Linked DNA regions of Homo sapiens: region 1 is linked to region 2. The links come from fine-mapping of genetic effects on gene expression. Tissue or cell type: ileum. Region 2 holds a variant in brackets; the other region holds the start of a gene. All regions are shown on one strand. Distances are between the middles of the regions.

The links. PIP is the estimated chance that this variant, and not a neighbour inherited with it, causes the effect.
Region 1: it holds the start of NVL, and the variant in region 2 is fine-mapped to the expression of NVL in ileum (GTEx, PIP above 0.99). The same link has a PIP of 0.9 or more in naive CD8 T cells and whole blood.

Annotation. Positions count from the first base shown.
Region 1 is chr1:224,328,767-224,331,394 of GRCh38, forward strand. NVL (nuclear VCP like) reads right to left here and starts at 1,406. Exons shown (of 23, transcript NM_002533.4): 1 at 1,305-1,406. The coding sequence starts at 1,361. RefSeq lists enhancers at 974-1,113, 1,164-1,213, 1,404-1,453, 1,474-1,623.
Region 2 is chr1:224,269,807-224,272,566 of GRCh38, forward strand. The region is part of intron 17 of NVL (nuclear VCP like); the gene reads right to left. Among named protein-coding and RNA genes, the nearest start is that of MIR320B2, 14 kb to the left of the region's middle. The variant G/A (reference allele first, on the strand shown) is at 1,717.

The DNA of each region.
Region 1 (2,628 bases), 59 kb after region 2:
ACTAAGAAAGGGCAGATTTGAAGGAAGAAAAAAATCACAAATTCCACTTGGCCATTTTAATTTGGAGATATGCTGACTAGGCAGCTGGATATATCAATCTGTACTTCAAGATAAAATCTGGACTGGAGATATAAAGTTAGCAGTCATAAATATACAGAGGCCAGTGCAGCAGCTTGCACCGGTAATCCCAGCACTTTGGGAGGCTGAGGCCCGATCGCTTGAGCCCAGGAGTTAGAGACCAGCCAGAGTAACATAGTGGAACCCCGTCTCTACAAATAATAATAATAATAATAAATTAGCCAGGTGTGGTGGTGCACACCTGTAGTCCCAGCTACTGGGGAGGCTGAGGAGGGAGGATCACTTGAGTCAGGGAGGCCGAGGGTGCAGTGAGTTATGATTGTGCCCATAAACAGCCACTGCACTCTAGCCTGGGCAACAGAGCGAGACTATGTCTCAGAAAAATAAAAATAAAATGAAATAAATACATAGATAATAGAGTATGTAGATACTACTCAAAGGTTATTACACTAAATGAGATCACATAGGAAGTATGGATAGATAAGAAAGGTGTATGAGGAAAGAGGAGGAAGGGGAGGTAAGAGAACAGTGGCACAGAGCACTTCCAACATTTACAAGTTGGTAGGAAAAGATGGGTCCGAAAAGGAGATTGTTTAGGGGCTGGTGAAGTGAAAGAAAAACAAGGAGAATGTGTAGCTCACAAATTCCTAAGTGAAGAAAATTCTCTCCCACCTTTTAACTCAGACTGCTTGCTTACATTCTGAGGTATTTGCCACACACTGCTTTTTACTGATGGTCATGAAAATGAGAAAACCGTAGGCAAAGTGCCTGTTACTGTTGCCAGACCCATGTTATCTCGTTTTAGTGTGTAAGTTCCTTGAGAACGGAAATTAACATATTATTTATGCCACCCCTTCTCAAGGACCTCTTACAATGCGAGCGTTTGAAGACCATTCCTGTGCTAACTTCACAAGCCAAAGAGGTTAAAATTCAAAGGCTACCTCCACTCTACTGAATGATCTGCGCTGAAGACGACCAGACAACTTGGGCAGCCCTACCAAGCTGCACCCTCCCACCATCCCCGGCTTCTCCCTGAGACTCCGCACCAACGTGGGTAGGGAAGGCCCCGGCAGCACCAACTAAGGAGAAACAGACGCACGCCCAGACCCAGACTGGGGAAAGAAGACTAGTTGAGTTCCACCTGGATGCCACCCGACAAAAGGGGAGTGGCACCCTGGGGCAGCGATCGGGGCCCTTGGCGAGGCCAAGCGGTGCAGAATACACACCTGGATGACTCGCTGCTTGAGTTTATTATCCACGAACCCTGCAGGTCTGGGCTTCATCGCGTCGGTCTTCCAAGCCACAGCTCGGACCGCCAGCTCCTAGTCAACCGGGGGCCTCGTAGGGGTTGCCCGCCGCGATCGCCGGGCCAGTTGCACCTGAAATGCGCCCCTCCTGGGGCCTAGCCCGCGCCGTTTCCGTCAGAATAAAAGTAATGCGAATGAAGGGGAAAAAATTCCGAGGAGAGGGAGAAGACTTGAAAACCTCAGGGAGTTTCTAGGGGCCTTATTTTGCAGGCCTGCCCAGTGGACCCTGGAAGATTAGGACCCCTTTGAACGCGCTCAACTTTATTGGTTCCCCGCCGGGCGAACCAGGTGGGAGGAAGTTCCTACCCCGGCGCGGTGTGCGGAGACGCTGTCAACGGCGTCCTCTGGAAAACTTGGTTTGCTTTCCTCAGGCGTTCCAGCCACACCTCATTCTGATACAAAGCTAGTCTTCGCAAAACCAGCCACGGTAGATACTTGGAGTGATAAAATCAGGGTAAAAACACACCACCAGCCGCTGCTTGCTTTCCCACGTAGTTATCTTACATTTTAGAGGCCCGACAAAAGGGCTAGGTGAAAAAGAAAAGGAAGGACGGATTTATCCAGATAACTAAGTCATTTGTTACTTTTAGAACTCGTTTGACTTACGCTGTTATCATCGGCAGGTAATTTGTTGAATATATCCAGTGCAGGACTCCTTGGCCCAGAATTTTATCAAACGTTTGTATTTGCCCCAAGAAGTTTATCCTGCACTTAGGGAGACACAAAGGGACAGTTACCAAGCATTAAAAAAAAAATGCTGGCTTTAGTTTCTGTCTTCTTGTTTATTTCAACCGTGTTTTGAGTATTCTTATTTCAGGTCCTCCTTGGCTTATGACAAGGTTAAGTGCAGTGTATTAAGGGGCAGAGGGGAGAGAAAATGGAATTAAGAGAAGGGCGTGAGGCCGGGCACGGTGGCTCACACCTGTAATCCCAGCACTTTGGGAGGCCGAGGCGGGCAGATCACTTGAGGTCAGGAGTTCACGACCAGCCTGGCCAACATGGTGAAACCTTGTCTCTACTAAAAATATAAAAATTAGCACTGAATTAAGTATTAGATTTCCCACTCAAAATATTGATCCGTTTGGTTGCAACTTCATTTCCTACTTCTTCACTATGTGTAGTTTTATTTTTTATTTTTTTAGTTGTAAAATATAAGAACATTCACCATCTTAAACATTTTAAAGTGTGCAGTTTAGTGATAATACATTCATAATATGCAACCATCACTGCCATCTAGTTCCAG
Region 2 (2,760 bases):
TGGTGAGATCTCAGCTTACTGCAACCTCTGCCTTCTAGGCTCAAGCAATCCTCCTACCTCAGTCTCCCAAGTGGCTGGGACTACAGGTATGCACCACCACACCTGGCTAATTTTTCTCTCTTTTTCTTTCTTTTTTTTTTTTTTGTAGAGCCGGGATTTCACCATGTTGCCCTTGCTGGTCTTGAACTCCTGGACTCAAGCAATCTGCCCACCTCGGCTGCCCAAACTGCTGGGATTACAGGTATGAACTACCGCGCCCAGCTTACCCCACTGATTTCTCTAGAAAAAAAAAAATTGGTGCTCCTTATTATCACTCCTTGGTAACATAACACTAACAGAATCATAATCCATACTCAAAAATATAAGGAAGTAATGGGTAAAAAACATTTTTTCTACATAAGCAAGACAAACTCAGAGTCAATACAAGAATGACTGATAGATTTTGCTGCATTAAAGCCATAATATTCTGGCCGGGCATTGTGGCTCACACCTGTAATCCCAGCACTTTGGGAGGCCGAGACATGTGAATCACCTGAGGTCAGGAGTGCAAGACCAGCCTGGCCAACATGGCAAAACCCCATCTCTACTAAAAATACAAAAAATTAGCTGGGCATGGTGGTGGGAACCTGTAATCCCAGCTGCACGGGAAGCTGAGGCAGAAGAATTGCTTGAACCCGGGAGGCGGAGGCTGCAGTAAGCCAAGATTGCATCATTGCATTCCAGCCTGGGCGACGGAGTGAGACTCTCAAAACAGAAAACAAACAAACAAACAAACAAAACCTATAATATTCTATATAATAAAATTAAATATAAGTCATAAGACTGGGAAAAATAGTGTCAACACATAATTAAATAAAAGACTACTTTCCATCATAGAGTACCAATTAATGTAAAAAAAGAAAAAGACAGCAATAGCAAAAGGGTTGAAAGATAAGATCAAATAATTTCAAATCACTGGAGATAGTCAACCTCATGGTAATCAGGGACATGTATACTAAAATGTAATATGATTTGCCAATAAAACTGCCAAAAAATAAAAAGACAGGTATAATCCATTGTTGATAGGAAATGGTTATTTTCACACACTGTTGGTGGGCACATGTAACTGACAGTTTTTGTGAAGGATGATACAGCATTATTTTTCAAAATCTAATATATATCAATCTTCAACCCTGATTTTCACTTCCAAAAATCTATCTCATATAGTCCCATCACAGGTGCACAAAAATACGTGAAACAAGTTCAGCAGAGTTCTATTTACAACTGGAAACAATCTAAATGTCCAAAACAGGAGAATTATTATGTAAATTCTGCTGTATCCAGACTATTATACAATATCTATTTTTAAGTTATTACGTACATGAGAAAGTCATCAAGACAGAATGACCACATTTATATAAAAAATAGAAGCCTAGGTCCAGGCATGATGTAATCCCAGCACTTTGGGAGGCTGAGGCAGGAGGATCGCTTGAGGCCAGAAGTTCAATACAAGCCTGGGCAACACAGCAAGATCCCACCTCTAAAAACAAAAACTTAGCTGGGTGTGGTGGTGCACACCCGTACTACTAGCTACTCAGGCAGCTGAGGTGGGATCATTTCTTGAGCCCAGGAGCTCAAGGCAGCAGGCAGTGAGCTACAATCACACCACTGCACTCCAGCCTGGGAGACAGGGTAAGACCCTGTCTCAAACAACAGCAACAACAACAAAACAGAAGC[G/A]TAAAATATAAATTTTTTTATGTTTCTGGAAAAAATTCTAGAATGATGCATACTAAATGACAACTATTAGCAGTCTCGTAATAACCTCCAAAAAGAGTAATACGGAGGAGAATGGAAAGAAATTTACTCTCTTTATACTTGTGTTTTATTTGAATTTTTCACAAATGTGTATTCATGTATAACTAGTGCAATTAAAAAAGAATACATTTGCCAGGCGCGGTGGCTCACGCCTGTAATCTCAACACTTTAGGAGGCCGAGGCGGGCAGATCACGAGGTCAGGAGTTCGAGACCAGTCTGGCCAACATAGTGAAACCCCATCTCTACTAAAAATACACAAAAAATTAGCCAGGCGTGGTGGTGTGCGCCTGTAATCCCAGCTACTCGGGAGGCTGAGGCAGGAGAATCGCATGAACCCAGGAGGCAGAGGTTGCAGTGAGCCGAGATTGCGCCACTGCACTCCAGCCTGGGCAACAGAACGAGACTCTGTCTCAAAAAAAACAGAATGCATTCAAATTTAAAATGTTTTTAGAGGCCAGGCATGGTGGCTCATGCCTGTAATCCTAGCACTTTGGAAGGCTGAGGCAGGTGGATCACCTGAGGTTAGAAGTTCGAGACCAGCCTGGCCAACATGGTGAAACCCTGTCTCTACTAAAAAAAAAAAAATACAAAAAATCAGCTGGGCATGGTGGCACACACCTGTAGTCCCAGCTACTCAGGAGGCTGAGGCACAAGAATCGCTTGAACCCAGGAGGCAGAAGTTGCGAAGAGCTGAGATCGCGCCACTGCACTCCAGCTTGAGTGAGAGTGAGACTCTGTTTTAAAAAAAAAAAAATCAAATAAAAAGAAACAAAAAATAAAAATAAAATGTTTTTAGAATCTGCTTTAGGTGAAAATGTTAGAAAAGCAAACTATAGCTGGGCGTAGTGGCTCACATCTGTAATGCCAGCACTTTGGGAGGCCAAGGCGAGTGGATCACCTGAGGTCAGGAGTTCAAGACCAGCCTGGCCAAAGTGGTAAAACCCCGTCTCTACTAAAAATACAAA